2 separate regions of the Homo sapiens genome follow, and region 2 is linked to region 1. A link means that fine-mapping ties the variant in region 1 to the expression of a gene that starts in the linked region. Tissue or cell type: whole blood. Region 1 holds a variant in brackets; the other region holds the start of a gene. All regions are shown on one strand. Distances are from middle to middle.

The links. PIP is the estimated chance that this variant, and not a neighbour inherited with it, causes the effect.
Region 2: it holds the start of CD44, and the variant in region 1 is fine-mapped to the expression of CD44 in whole blood (TOPMed, PIP above 0.99).

The regions. Positions count from the first base shown.
Region 1 is chr11:35,162,980-35,171,162 of GRCh38, reverse strand. All of the region lies in intron 1 of CD44 (CD44 molecule (IN blood group)), which reads right to left. It overlaps SNORD164 (small nucleolar RNA, C/D box 164), which reads right to left; the gene lies at 8,153-8,183. Among named protein-coding and RNA genes, the nearest start is that of SNORD164, 4.1 kb to the right of the region's middle. RefSeq lists an enhancer at 5,075-5,134 and a silencer at 5,555-5,604. The variant A/G (reference allele first, on the strand shown) is at 4,929.
Region 2 is chr11:35,135,107-35,143,289 of GRCh38, reverse strand. It overlaps CD44 (CD44 molecule (IN blood group)), which reads right to left and starts at 4,119. Exons shown (of 18, transcript NM_000610.4): 1 at 3,920-4,119. The coding sequence starts at 3,986. CD44-DT (CD44 divergent transcript) reads left to right here and starts at 5,258. Exons shown (of 3, transcript NR_120528.1): 1 at 5,258-5,592; 2 at 6,664-6,944. RefSeq lists enhancers at 2,722-3,222, 4,390-4,954 and a silencer at 4,410-4,479.

The DNA of each region.
Region 1 (8,183 bases):
GCAAACCCAAATTATTACCCGGGAGGATATTAATAATGCCAACAGCAAGAGCAGTGGCTAATATTTATTGTGCATTCATTGTGTATATGCCAGGCTCTATTTTAGGCACTTTAGAATTATTTACTCATTTTATCCTTAAAACATTCCTATGAGGTGGGTAATATTAGTATCCTCATTTTCCAGATGGAGAAACTAACACACAGAGAGGGGAAGAAATAAAGAAACATGCCCAAACTCACAATGAAGTAGAATTAAGGCAAGGTTAAGATGTGAATAGCCATGGACCACAGAACATTGCTTGACAGAGTGCCAGTGTCTCTGGCAATGGTGCTAGCCATGCTGCAAACCACTATAGAGAGGCAAGACTCCTCAGATGTCTGTGTGTCTCTCCTGAGAAACAGAGAACTCTGTGATTCAGGATCCACTTTGATTCAAGAAGCTAATACTAAATGGCTGATTGCATCTCTCAAACAAGCCTTTCTGGCTGGAAATAAACCAAGAATGTTTTCCGTTGAGCCCTCTGGTCTCCAATAAATCTCCTGCATCATGTAATGAATAAAATGTCCCAAGTGCCTCCCTCTGAGCGATAAATGAGCTCAACTGAAAACACTGACTGTTTGAGGCCACTTTTGGATTTGGAGAGGAGACTTCCCGTGGTAGAAATGCCACCAGGCCTTTAGCACGCTCATTACTATAGGGCTGTGGGCAGCACAGAGGGGTCATGGAGACCAGTGTCCCAGTGTCTAGGAACCTTATCTCCCTACCCACATGGGAAGAGGTCTGCTAGGGAGCTGTCAGGAAGGCGAGAAAAAGGAGCTCTGAAAGAAGGTTTTTTTGTCCTATAAAGCTGGTCTGTAGTGCCAAACTTTTATGAAGGTCAGTAGTTCAACCTAGTTAGGACCTCCTCAAACCTGGTTCAATTCCTGACCCTGCCACTCACTTTAGGTGACACAGGTTGTTAATTACTTAACCTCTCTGACTCTCCACCTCTTCCTTGATGGGATGACAATGCGAACCTGTCAGGGTTTATGGGACTATTACATGAAATAAGGTATGTCAAACACTTGATATGGTGTTTGACACTTAATAATCAGAGCCAATGAGCATTGCACACTTATTAGGTGCCTTATGTACTTCAGCTAATTTAATTCTCATAAAAATGCTATGAGGTAGGCACTATTGCTAAACCCATTTTAGAGATGAGGAAACTGAGGCACAAAGTGGTGAAGTCCTTTGCCCAATGTCATCCAAGTGGGAAAGTCAGGATTCTAACCTCTATGCTATGTTGCCTCCTATTCAGGCTCCTGGTTACAGGTACTATGCATTCTCTCCTGGATAAACCATCACTGATCCCAAATGCCATTAATCTCATCTATACTGCCCCCTAAGCCTCAGATCAAGGAAAATAGATCTCTGATAAAATTGTCCGAGCACATTTCAAAGCTTTGCCTAGATTGTAGGGCCTGCGAGGAATAATAGCTTCTTGGTCCACCCCAGTTATTTCTGAAGTTGTAGAAAATCACAACATGTGCTGGGAAGAGAGCACTGTGTAATTTTCACCCAAGTTGCCATTATCTACGTCTTCCCAAACTTTCCTGAGAGGTGAGTGGCCTGGTACTAGTATTGGAGCTGGGCTGCAAGGGATTTTCAATATGGAATCCAGGAGCTGGTCAATACATCCATGGACCTGTGAGATTATATGCAAGATTGTGTGTATGGATGTGTGTGTGTGTGTGTGTGTGTGTGTGTTTAGGTAGGGCAACATCTCTGGTTTTCATTGGTTTTCAAAGTCTGTGACACAACCAGGTAAAGAATTACAAGAAATTATTATCTTCAAGGTCTCTAGTAACCAGAAATTCCAGCATTCTGAAATTTTGGAACTTCTCTGTGGGCTTCGTTGACAACAGAAATGGTGTCTCCCTTCTTCACAATTATATTCCCAGTACCTAGTACAGCCTCCCATGGTAGGCAAATGTTGAATGAAATAATGAATTAATAAATGCTCTCTTTCTGCCCCCAACCCCCGACAGGCTGCAGTCTTATAGGGTGCAAAAAGATCACCTATCAGGTTCCTTTCCCACATCATATCTGAGGAATCACCAGCTGGTGTTTGCTGAGAATTCCTTATTGGATACTTAAAATGTCTTTAACCCAGAACTTTGCTTCTGTGAACATTTGCTGTTTTCCCCGAAAGCAAATGTTTCAGAGACCAACTTTTAGTTTTGTAACTGGCTTTGTCTGTCTGAATGTGCAAGCTATCATCTCAGTTACAGGACAGTATGTTCACATACCATCACAGGGCCATTTCTGAGGCCAGATCTCCTAGGGAACATGGCAAACACAGTACATTCCATATGAAGACCACCCAAAGACAACCTACAGTCATACTATGCCCAAAGAGAGGGCACTGTCAGTTCTCCAGACCAGACGTCTCCAGATTCTGCAAAATGAGTTAATTTGTTTTCTAACTTGAGCCACCCAGGTGTGCCTGATCCCTATTTGTCATCTCCTCAGGAGGGATGAGGCAGAATTAGATTTTTGGTTCCAGATTAAGCTATATGTAAGGAGAAGTTGCTTTATCATGAAGATGAGAATAAAGCCAGTTCCTGCTACTCAATGGTGTTCTAATTCCTGCAGCTCCTGGTCCATAACCACAGTGAGCACTCACTGAGTGCCTAGTCTGGGTTCAAGGTATTCAGCACTTTACACCTAATATTTCACTTAATTTTCCTAACAATCCTGTGTGGCAGGCATTTTTATTATCCCCATTTTACACAAGAGGTAACTGATTCATTGAGAAGATGTAAGTAACTTGTGCTAGTCACTGGGGGACCTGGGTTTCAGACTGGGCAATCTGGCTGATCATTTTCCAGTGTTAAATTCCAACTTATGCACAGGTCAGACACTGAAATGACAGGAAGCCCACTTACCCTTCATGTGATTTTTTAATAAAGTGTGGAGAGGTGATCATGAAAAGAGAGCCCTAGAGAGAAGAATTTGAGCTTATTGAATATTATTTTAAGATCAGAAGTCCCTTGATTCTGGACCACAAGATAGGGGCCTTTACCAAGGCCTGGTAAGGCTTCAGTGGAACAAACTTCACTAATGGAATTTTCACTCTCTCTCCAGAGAGGAGATTCTGAAGTCTTGACCTTGACTGGCTTTCCCCAGCAGTGGGCTGACTGCTTCTCTCTGATTCTGCCTGTTGGTCTTCCCATCATACTCTTGGGAATTTAGAAAGCCCAAACCTAGTCGTAGCCCCCAGGCCTCCTGCCCTTTACAGCCTGAATGCTCTCTCTACAATTAGGCAGGGCTCTTAGGAGAGGACTCCAGGACTTGGGGTTGGCCCAGGGTTGGGTCACCAAGGACACAGGCTGTCCTTGTGACATTACGAGATGTCTGCAGCCAAACCCAAAAATCTAGACTGACCAAGCTAAGGCTCCAGGTTGATGTAGCTGGAACATAGCTCTCTGGGTGGACTGCACCCAAAGTGATTGAGCTCCTGGGAGTCAACCACACACAAACCACTTGGGCAGCCAGAAGCACTGGTAAGCTCTCCAAATTTTTTATTTTTACAGTGTTTATCATTAAAAAGCCAGGATTCTATTTCTGTCCTCTGATTTGCTGAGCTCATGTCCAAAACAGATTGCACAACTAATAAATCTTACTGAGCTGGTTCTGATCAGAAGTAGGAAGGGAAAAGGACAAGGTTTTGTTGTTTTAAAGCATTATTGTTAATTGGATTATCTATTTTTAAAGCCAGGAGGCACAATGGGAAGCTTCTAACCAATTTCTCTTGTGACACAGGAGAAAATAAAATCAAGGATAGCCGAGTATGGTCCTCCAGCAAGTTAAAAAACAAAACAAAACAAACAAAAAACAAAAACAAAAACACACACACACACACACAAAACTCAGTGGTTCATAATTGCAGATTTCTGACTCCTACACCAGTGCTGTTGCTACTGATCTATCTTTCATAAGAGGTCTGAGCAAGCTGCTCTCAAAAAAGCCACAACTCACTGTCTTAATAGGACACGAAGAAGTCATTTTCTTCTTCATTTGTTCGAAGGCTTCAAAGCCCAGAAGTTTTCATCTGGGAGTCTTTCTAGCTATTGTGCCCTCTGCTGCCCCCCAGGCCTGCCAGTCTAGAAGGCTGGCACATCACTCGCCCCCATCTCCTGATGCCCATGTGATGGGCTCCTGGTGAAAGGGTGTATTGTTTAGCATCCACTTCTGAATGAGGCCAGAATCACACTTGGTGGCCGAATCGCCTTTGGCTGCCCAGTGCAGACCATGAGTCTTGAGTGACTCAGTCTCTCCCGGAATTGCCCTGGAGGCAGATGAGGGTTTAATGAGCAGAGAAAACAGTCATGCACAATCATACCCAGAGAATTTCCTCCAGAATGTGCCCTGGGTTGCTTTCAACTGAGCTATTCATCACTTGGCACTTAGAAATGCAAGGCACCCCAACGTCTTGGCGCCTGGCTGGACCCCCTGATTTCTCTGCCTTTTTTCCGTGGAGCCTGGAGCCTGTCATGGCAGTCAACGCTGAACCAACATGGAGGGGCCTGTCACATTGGAGAAGAATCCCAAGGGTTCTCCTAGCTGTTACCCTGGCCCTTCAGCCAAGGCCACCAAATGATCAACCCAATGCACAGCCTAGAAAGCTCTTGGGTTGTTTTGAGAGTTTGGAGAACAGTACTGTCCCTGTCTCCTAATGGGATGATGGGGACTTGGAGGTGAGGGTATGGAGAACTGTTTAACCCCCCACTCCTGGTCCTGGATCCAACAGAGTCTTTCTGGCAAAAGAAAGTATATGTCCCAGAACTGTTGCTTCACTGCACCAGAATTCTGTAACACCAAGTAGTCTTTGACGAGTGCGTCTTCAGGCAGAGAAACCACAGTACCCACCCCTGTGTGTTGCC[A/G]TGGTGATCAGGAAATCCTCTGGCCTCACGATCTTTGTTTTCTGCTTTTTCGGATCTTATTGATTTAGCAGATTGACTAGCACAAACCCAGGATGTGGTAAATGAAATGAAAAAAGCATCTTGGGGCCCAAATAGGGTTTTTCCTCTTGCAAGTAGAAAATAAGGTTGGGCCACTTGGTTTTGTCATTGTATTTTTTTTTCTGGGTAGTTACAATGACTGATACATCACCTAATCAATATACAGTTTCTGCTAATGTCTATAGCTGGCATTTTGTGGAACTGCTTAGCTTTAGTTTGAGGGAAGACTTTCGTAACAGTTGAGGTAGGATGAGAAACTGTTACTCATAGGTAATATCTATATTTCAGGGCTGATTCATGGGTTGCTGACATGCTGAGATAAGCCGGGGGCCCCCATCTGGGAGTGGGATGCACTGGTTCTAGCCTAAACTCTGTTAATTATAAGCTAATTATGTGACCTTGAATAACTCCCTGTAGCTCCCCCAGGCACACCTTGCCTTCCTGCCACCCAAGATGAAATAAAAAGTTATGAAATTTTGGAGCTTGGGGGATAAAAGTGAGAAGGTTGATGTGCATACCTGGGACAGTATTAAAATCTCAAAAAGCTTCTCAGAAACCTCATATGAATTAAGACACATTGGGGCTCCACCCTCAGCAGAACCGAATGGATTAAAGTACATCAGGCTTTGCTATTCTTGCCACGTAGCAGTTTCCTTCACCAATTATAAAGCACTTTCACACCCAAAAGCAGCCTGTGAGGCCCAGAGGGTAGGTACTACAGACCCATTTAAAAGGTGAAGAAACTAATGGACATAAGTTTCACAGACTCAAAGTCTTACGGAGAGTTTGGTAAACCCAGATCTCAACTCAGATTTTCCAGTTCTGCTAATTTTCCCCATTCCCCTCTGGTGCTGCCTTTTCAACTTGGGTTGTCAACAGGCAAATGGGACCAGTGGAAGCATTCAGAGAGAAGATTGATGGTTTTCAGATGTTTCTTTCTCTCCCTGACATGATGTCTTAGGCACAACCACAGTATTTCAAGTGGTTGAAAATCAAGCTGAGCTAATGGGGGCTGGAGTGAGGGTGGAAGGGCAGACCCAGAGACTCAATCTACCAGATGCTCATTCTCTTCCAGCACCCACCCTACCCCATCAATTGTTCTGGCACCCACCACAAAGCCCTAAGAGCCTTGGTGGAAAAGTCTGGAAAATACTGTGGTAGGGGCCAATCAAAGTGACGATGGCCACCACTTAGTAAGTCCTGCAATAAACCAGGGGCTCCAAAGCATTTGGAAACCTAGGAGGGTAAATCATCCCATGCAACGGACATACAAACAGATGCTCAGAGCAATTAGTACAGCTCAAAGGCTGCAGCCCAAATGAAATATATTGTGCAAAAATGCTATCCATGAGCCAGGCTTAGTATTATCATTTTTGTATTCTTCCCTTCATTATTAAGAACACAAATATCTTGCAACTTAAAGTTTTTCATAAAGATTGTCCCTTGCTCACTCTGCAGAGGAGATAGCAAAGTTTGAGTTTCCAATCCTACTCTAAGGAGACTGGGCTGGGTAAATAGTGGACTTGGCCAGATTTATACAATCAAAAACTGCAGTTAAGACTTGTTGTCTTTGAAGATACAGCCATCCAGATGGAGAGAAGCAAAAGGTCACCACCAATTCCACCAGAGCCCAACTTCAACACACAGCCCACGGCATCTCCAAATTTGATTTTCTTTCCTCTTGCCTCTTTTAGCATCTCCTTAAGTGAAAAAGAAAAGATTCTGCAATGTATGGAGCTGCTAATTTGTGTCAGATTGTAGTCTATGTGCCTTAATAGATGCTATACCTTGAGAAGTCAAAAAATCACCCCCATTTCACAGATGCAACAAGTGAGGCTGAGTACAATCCACTCAGCATCCTGCTATGAATGTGGCAAGAGCCAGGAGTCAAACCCCAGGATAACACTTGGTTTCTGACATGAGTTAGCTAAGACTCAGTTTACCAAAGCTGTGCCTCTCTGCTTGGGATATGTGGATTCTCACCCTGGGGCATGAAATGTATGTGAATGGTGGGGTAATGGATGTGGCTGTAACACTAAGGCTCTGGCAGCTTCTACTGCTGAGCCCCCAGCTGGGTTTTCCAGTGATATTAACACTAATAGAGTACCTACTGTGTGCCAGGCTCTGTGCTCGGTACTTCACATGAACTATCTCGTTTCAATCCCACAGTAGTCACATGAGATAAGTACTATTGCGATCATTGAAACTTGATACATATAAGAAAACTGAGGCTGAGAGAGGTGCAAGTTTGCACCAGCAGGGGGTGAGGCAGACAAATCTCTTCTTTCTCAGGGGCCACATGCAAATGTCTCTCTCCTTGCTGCACCTTGACTTTAGGAGGGTACAGACAAGAAGCAGAATCATGCCTCTTCTCAGATAGTTTTAACATCTTGGGTTAGAATTTGCTAATACCATGCACATTTAGCTGGGGGGAGGGAGCTGATTACTACTTTTTCCTCCCAGGAAGTAGCCATGAGACCAAAGAAGACAGGGAGAATTTCATAGAGAAATTGGTCTTGCACTGGGATTTAAGAGGCTTGAGCCTAAACAGGGCTGACCCTGTAGGGACCACAGCAAGAGGAAAAGCTTGATGAATGGACTGGATTTCTGCCTGACTAGTATAGTCCTCTAATTCTCCTATGAAGGATATTTGTTCTTCCCAGGACAGATGCCATCTGGTTCGCATACTCCATAGATTGATGCTTTTTTACCCCTTTCCCCATACCACCACTATGATTCACAGGGTGCACAATGCCAGTCACACTCCAATGGGCACTAACTGCCTTGTAATCCTAGTGGCCTCTTCCCTGTTACTCAAAGAAGCTTATCCGAATGCAAGCAAGTGAGTGTGCATGTTTTTCTAGGAACAACCATGAGTTTCCTTCAGTTTAGAAAAAAAAAAAAAGGTAAATCATTCATAACCCTTGGCACTTGGTGGCCAATAGCTCTTACTTACAATTTACCTTACAACCACCACTGACTTACAGGTGGATTAAAACAGAACAAGATTCATGCCTTTAGGTTATCTTGCCTTCTTCAAATATATTAGCAATGAAGTGATGCAGCTGCAAAAATATTTATTTGCAACAACAAAGCATTACAAGTGACAAAGTAGAGCTCTAAATTTCCACTGATTTCAAAGTCAGAGGACTCAGAAATCACCAGGTCACATGTTGG
Region 2 (8,183 bases), 28 kb after region 1:
CAGCAGAGCATCAGGTTTTTAAAACTTTGGTGCTCCTGACCATCTAGCGATGTTCCAGGAGGTGCTAGAAGCCCCAGGACAATACAGAGAATCATTGTCGAACACCAACATTGCTATATGGTCAAAAATATATATCATTATTATTGTATTAAACTCAAATTGGGTATATTGTAGAGTAATATATAAAACTGTAATGAGTCTGTAAGGTAGTATTTAAGGTGTGAAACAAATGTTGTTACCCCAGTAGACCACACCCTCCCCACCCACTGCAGGGGGTGGGGTTGAGGCTCCCACAGTCCTCATGATAGAGATACATGAGAGAAATGCCCTGCCCTAATATCTTAACAAGTCGCAGAGAGGGGAAGTCACTAGTCCCTCTCTTTCAGATTTTCTAAATGATCCTTAGAGTTCCCATCTCTGAGTCTATGACAATGAGTCAGGAAATAGTTCCTGAATGAATGGAAGGGAATCTGTCATGAACTAAGAATTTCATGCTGTCCAGCATCCCCTCCTTTGTGGGGAAATTTGGGAAAAAACAAATGGAACATTTTCCTACTGGCTGCCAGCCTCCCACACAAGGACTTGTCACCATGCCTTTGCAGCAAGTAGATGTCCAATGTGTAAATGGGGAATACCTGAATTAGTTGATGCTAGCCCCAACAGAGATGAAGCTTTGCCTCTTTGCTCCTTCACATGGGAAAACACAGCTAAAGTTCTAACTCCCAGCAGGGGGCGGAGTCTCTAATGCTCAATTAGAGAGAAGGGAGCAGAAAGGTGTGTGCCAGCCCTAAGACCCAGGGCTCTCAGACGCTCTCCTCTTTCTCAACACCAGGCATGCAATTCCCAAGCAAAGATCCCCTCACCCAGTCTATCATTGTTGGACATTTGGGTTGGTTCCAAGTCTTTGCTATTGTGAATAATGCCACAATAAACATACATGTGCATGTGTCTTTATAGCAGCATGATTTGTAGTCCTTTGGGTATATACCCAGTAATGGGATGGCTGGGTCAAATGGTATTTCTAGTTCTAGATCCCTGAGGAATCGCCACACTGACTTCCACAATGGTTGAACCCTAAAACTTAAAGTATAATAATAATTAAAAAAAAAGATCCCCTCACCCACAGAGACAAGGAGATGCATGTGCATGAAGGACTCATCCCCCCTGGCCTCCACCAAGGGCCACTTTCTTCCTCCTGCACAAGACCCCGAATTCAAGATATCTGTTCCCCAACTCAGAGTTTCTGGGTCCAATGTCACTTAACTACATTTGGCCATTTCTCCACTTTTTGCTTTCCCATACAAAGACTGGACTCCTCCTCAAAGCCTTGCTCCTTTCCAAAGTTTCCTCGTGGTTGTCCAGAGTCCACCACTCCCCAGAATGGGGCAACAAGAGCTCCTTTCCTTCCCCTTTCCTCCTTCTCCCCTTCGCCACCCACACCATGCCCAGCCCCAAGCCCTCTGACAAAGTCATGTCTCCTTTCCAAGTCCCAGTTCCTGCCAAACAACTTTACAAGCACATGAAAGCGAGGGCCGGGGCAGTTATTGCTACTGGCACTTCATTGTACTTCCTCTAAATGATGCTGCGCAAAGGGGCCGTGGAAACACGGGGCAGGAGGGAGACTGCGGGTCTCTGGGAGAACCTCAAGGGTTAGGACAGTGCCAAATATTTGGAAGTGGGGCCTTTTAGAAGGAACGGGGAGACAGGTTGGAAGGAGTCAGGAGTCAGAATGCCCAAAGACAAAGCAGAAGATGGCACTGGTAGGTAACATACAAATAAACTTCCCTAGAGACTATAGGGAAACCACCAGGGCCCTCTTCTTTCAGGCCAGGCCCAGGGCTCTCCCTGATCTCCAGCTTGACTCTTCTCTCCCATCCTGAATGTTTCCACTTTTCAAGGGCTTATTTGAGCTCCAGTCCCTTTTGGAACTTTCCCTAAGGCCTAGAGTCCACCAAAATCCTTCCCTCCCTGAAATCCTTCCAAGTTCGTCCATCTTATACAGTCTAACATATTCTAAGCCTAGGCTTTGGAGCTCAGTGGAGCTGGGTTTCCATCCAGCACTGCTCCTGGCTATGTGAATGCCAGCAAGTCACTTAACGTCTCTAAGCATCAGTTTTCCTCCTGTCAAACAGGCCTGATAACAGGAAGCTTCTTACTAGGCCATTGTGAGGGTAGAATGAGATAACACATGGAAAATATTTAACATAATGCCTGGCACAGTGAAAATATACAGTAAATGGTAGCTAGCACTGTATTCATTTTTTTTTTTTTAACAGAGTCACGCTTTGTCACCCAGGCTGGAGTGCAATGGCATAATCTTGGTTCACTGCAACCTTCACCTCCTAGGTTCAAGCAATTCTCCTGCCTCAGCGTCCCAAGCAGCTGGGACTACAGGTGTGCACCACCACACCCTGCTAATTTTTGTATTTTTTGTAAAGATGGGGTTTCACCATGTTGGCCAAGGCTGGTCTCAAACTCCTGACCTTGGGTAATTTGCTGCCTCAGCCTCCCAAAGTCCTAGGATTACAGGCATGGGCCACCATGACAGGCTGTGTTGTTGCTATCATTATTATTATTATTTCAGCTTCAGTAGTATAAATCCTAGATCCCCAAATCCCCACCTAGCAAAGACCTCTCACTCACACAGAAAGGGAGATGCATATGCACAGAGAACTCATCCTGCCTAGCCTCCACCTAGGGTCACTTTCTTCCTACTGCAGAAAGTAGGAAGATAGAGAAAGCAGAAAGTAATTCAAGATACTTTATACTGGGTACTCAATCTAAACTACCTGGGTGAGACTGTGTGTTTCAATTTCTCAGTACTCCCGTGGAACTGGGTTAATAAATATTTGCTGAGTAGAATTTACTGCATGCAGGCTGAGCTGTCTTAATGACCCAGCTGGCACTTCTTAAAAGAAAGATTAATTTTGGCCAGCGATAAGCAAATCGGCCATGTAATTATCTGTACATACATAGACAAAGAAAGAGAATGCTTGGAGTTGAGCCGTGCTAGAATATACCTTACACGCAGCCCCTCCCCTCCATAGCCACCACAAAGCACTGACCCTGTTTGGATGAGATATTGGAGCCCTAGCTCCAGGGTCCCTGATGTTGCCCTGGTATCAAGGCTCTTCTCTCTGCTCTGAGGCTGCCAGGCAGGGAATATAAGCCACCTTACTGTTGAGATTTCCCCACACTGATTGGCAGAAGCAGGAGGTGGTGAGGACCAAGCAGCTGGTCCAGTGGTTGCCTCTCATATTCATGCTCCCTATCCCAGGCTGGAATCTCATGGAGACCCAAGACCTCACCGCAGAGCTGGTTCAAGCTTCCACAGCGCTAAGGTGGCAGTGACACTGCGGACTGTAAGCTTTGGAACAAGGCTCAGTGGGGAGCTGGGAGAACCCAGGACCCCTTTCTGGAAAACCCATTGCCAGCTAGTCTCACACTTGGAATTGTGATCCCTTCTGTGACCACCTTGATAACAGCCACTCGCCCTGTTCCAGCCCCAGTCTCTGCCCCGCCCAGCTCTGCCCTGCCTAGACACAGCCCGGTGGGGCTTGGCGAGCCCTTGGGCACAGGAGCCTGTTAGTCCAGACAACGACTGTGCGCATCCGGGAGAACGGTTACTTTCTGCCATGTGCTGCAGCTCTAGCGACCTCGCCCAAAACTGCGCGCCGGCAGCCTGCCCAACAAACTTTCTTCTCTTTCTCTTTTTCTTTCAACCAAATGGTGCTTCCACAGACACATTCTCCAACGGTTTAGCGCAAATCCCAGCCCTGCTTTCCGGAGCCCAATGCACTTCGCAGACAGCTCACTTGACTCCAGTCCCCCAGGGCCGACTCAGCCGGAGGGGCTGCCGCCGGGTCCGCGCTGAGCACCCCGCACCCATCTTGCTGCCCAGGCTGCGGCGGGCACTCACCGATCTGCGCCAGGCTCAGCGGCACGAGGCAGAGTCCCCAGGCTGCGTGCCACCAAAACTTGTCCATGGTGTCCGGAGCGAACGGAGGGCGCGGGCGAAAGGAGCTGGAGGATCCCTGGGCGCGGGGCAGGGGCCGGCGGAGGACGGGACGAGGATGGCGGACCGAACCTGGCAGAGGCTGGGGTCCGCTGGGCAATGAGGCTGCCTCGGAAGTTGGCTGCAGTTTTTATTCGAGGTTGAAAACAGTGACCTAAGACGGAGGGAGGGAGCGAGCGAAGGACACACCCAAGCAAGGGGGGCTGTGACTAAGCAGCCCGCAGAGGTTTTAAGAAGTAGCAGCCCTCCCGGGCGGGCCCCTCTGCCCCCGCCCCGTGCTCTGCTGAGGCTGTAAATAATCGGGGCTGCCAGGGACGTGGGTCGGGGAACCTGGAGTGTCGCGGGGTGCCTGTGCCTCCGAGCCCCACTGGCCCCTGCGCCCAGAGACGCACTGGCTTTCTTCTCCCGCTGGCCCCGCGGCGTCAGGACAGAGGATGACCGAACCGTAAAACCTTGCACCATTGGGTTCAGCCTTTGGCCTCTCCTTTCCCGCTAAATTTCTCTGAATCCGGCTGGAGCAAGATCTCTGGGTTTCACAGGATGTTGGATATCCTGGGAGAGGAGCTGGAGAGAGGGCGAGGTCTTGCCCTGGGTGGCGCAGTGCCTCCGTGCCCACAGTGGGGAGTGAGGGGTGGGGAGTTGGTGAATCTTCCAAGTGGAAAGAGGGAGAGCTCATTCTTTTTCCCCTCAATAACAAGTCCACATGGCTTGAATGAATTTTAGCTTCTTGGCAGAACAGCTCAGGGAAAGCTACTGATGGCCTGTCATAGGGCTGGCATTTGGCTCAGCTAACCCATGTGTTCAAGCCAGTGTGAATGGGCACCTCTCTCCACACACATGCTCATTCATCCTCCTAAATATCCTTCCATCCGCCCATCCATCTATCCACCCATCTTTCCTTATGTCCTTCTGGGGCTCTCACATCCATCCATCCTCCTGTCCATCCACTAACCACTTAGGTCCATCTATCATCCCACTCATTCATTCATCCAACCACACACCTTTTAATTTATTCAACCACCTATTCTTCTATTCATCTTCCCATACAACTTCTCATCCATCATTCCACACTTCCTTTTTCACATCTCTTCATAAAACCACAACCATCCACCATCCTCTTCTCCACCCATCCACCCACATATCTGTTTATTGATATATCCACTCATTTCCCATCTGTCCAAGATCAACATATCCACCTATCATTTTATCCATTCTCTCATCCACCCATACGTTCATCTATTATTTTTGCCCCCATTATCCTCCTTTCTGTGTAAACATTAATTCATTTTCTCCCATCTTTCCTACCCAGCAGATCTTAAAGAGAGGAAGAGTTTGTAATATTCTTCAGGGGAAGCCTTTTGAGATTGAAATATCATACTTTGAATGATAACTCTATATCTATCTATAATATACTATGGTTTAATGTTTGGAAATCAAACGCAGTATTTATTTGTCATGTGAACTACTAAAAGTAAATCTGCATGGACTTCTTGCCTGGTGAGTTACACAGAAAATGAAAGTGATTATCAGTGGCTGTGGCAAGATGAAAGGAACCATGCCAGGACTTCTGAGGGAAGGTAAGATTTTGTTATTTATTTCAAGAAATTGAAAAGTTGAGAGAAATGCACCCAGCCATCCCCCTATGCATTCATTCATCAGACATGTAATGAGTGTTGTGGGGTATCGAGGTAAATAAGACCTGGCGCTATCTTCAGAGCCCTCACCCTCTGGTACGGAATAAAACTCACAAGCAGGCCATTACCATGCAAGGTGAAATATGCTGCAAAATGTGTGTGTTTGGGGTGCTACCATTCCTAGAGAAGGGAGTCACACTCTCTCCTGGAGAACACCAGGCAGTCTTCACAGGGGAAGTGATATTTGAGGCAGGCCTCAAAGGAAAAGGAGGAGGAATTCTTCAGATGAAACTACAGGGACAAGTAAGTCATCCACAGGCAGTACAGTGTAGTGACGAACAGCATGGATTCAGGAGCTAGAACACCTAGATCCAAACCCTATTATGGCTGCTTCTTAGTTGTGTGACCTTGCCTAAGGCAATTAGCTCAATTTGCTCAAGTATAAAATGGGCTTAATAATAGTATCTATTATTACTATTACAATTCTATTACTTCATAGAATTGGTGAGGATTAAATGACTCAAAAGCCCTGCATGTATTAAGCCGTAGATTTATGTCTACATATGCATGCAGTAAGCACTTTAAATAAGTGTTTGCTATCATTACTAAAAGCAAAATTGTGTTTGAGCATAGAAAAGTGAAAGAACATGGCTTGTCCAGAGAATAGAGAGCAATGTGAGCTGATCTGAACATAGATCAGATGAAGGGGCTGGGGGAAGATAGCAGACATGAGGTTACAGGTATGGGGACTACAAGGTGTAAGCTATGCCAGGGAGTTTGAACTTGACCCTGTAGGAAATAAGGAGGCAACGTACTTAGTTAAAATTATTATCATTGTTATGTTAAAATATGCATAACATAAAATTTACCATTTCACCCATTTAAAAGTGTTTATAGCAGTGACGTGTAGTACTTTAACAATATTGTGCAACCACTACCACTGTCTAGTCCGGTATAAATTTTTCAGTTGTGGAGATTCTGTTTGACTAAAGACTACTCCTCTTGCATTTTCAGGAAGAGTGTTTGGGACTGAAAAATCCTTGTCTGGATCTAGTCCTCAGCCACTCAGAAGCTGGCATGCCATGACTCAAAGAGCCGCCCGTCTGGAATGAAGACAGTGACCCGTAACTCCCACCTGAAGAGCAGGTGCTTGGAAAATGCTGCCAGTCCGCAGGAAAAAGTTGTTACTGCTGCTGTCTGTGACCAAGAGGACACTTTATTTCTTGAAACAACTGGGGGCAAACTGGCTCCCAGATAAGGCTTCAGTCCCTACTCATGTGAGGAAACCAGCCCTGGTAGGTTCCATGCACAAGAATACAGGACAAGGAGCAGCTTTTTTCACCTCATGCAACCTCCAGGGATTTCAGCTTCCTTTTCTTGGAGCAAGAAAGTGAAGTGACGTGGGGAGTCACTAGGAACAATGTCTGTCTTACTGTGTTTCATGGAACCTGGAGGTTCCTTAGAGACCCCTCAGAAGCAGACCTAGTGGTCAGAGTAAAAGCTGAGGAGTAAGCTGTGCCTCTCCCTCCCCAGGCCCCATCCCAACCACAGAAGTTCCACTTGCATCAGTTTTATATACCAGACTATTGCATGAAATTACATTTTGACAGATGATTATTCTTAAAAAATATATAAAAACCAACAAACTAGGCCATATCAAGTCCTGGTCCCTTCTCCATTAGTGCAGTAAACAATTCCACCAAGGAAAATATAGGTGTGAAAGTGCTTTGCAAACTGTAGAAGGGCATGCAAATTCTAGGGGCTGTAATTAGGATTATTCTCCCCAGAAGCGGGGATTATTTTGTTTGCTTGCTTCCCGATAGTTTGGTGAGGGACTGAGGTCATTTGCCCCCATACCACAAATGACTCATTTCAAATAACAGACCTGGTGACTTACTGAGTCAAGGTCCACCTTTGGGAATTCCTGGATCACCTCTTTGAGCTCCCCTCTCATCCACTTTCCATTCTAAAGACACCCTGCCCACACCACTGGTCACACAAACCCTTCCCAAACTCTTAGATGCTTGATATCTGTTGTGTGTTGCACCATCTTTCTTTCTAAGCCAAACCATGGGATGTGGGAAACTGGAAAGGAAACTTGAATTGATTTGAGTTGACACGAGATTACACTATTTGGGAAGAATCCAGAATTCAATCAGCAGCCTTGGACCGAGAAAGTCCAGGTCTGAGCATTGGCTTTCCCCCTTATCAGAGGATGACTTAACCTCTGGGAGTTTCGGTAATCCCAGCCACAAAACAAGGGTAATCAGACCTTTCCCATAGTTTATTATGAGTAGTCAGTGAAAGAAGACATCAAGACCATTTCCTGGTGTGCCTGCCTCATGGTGGGACTCAATGACCTCTAAGCTACCTGAGAACAGGGACATGTCCTTCTGGGGTGCCAGCACATACTCAGCTCTCAGTCCCTAACATATACACTGTGCTCCATAAATAAGCATTACATAAATGTATGAGGGACTGTTATTTTTTTTCCCTCCCATCAAAGCGCATAGGGGTGTTTCAGGAATCACATG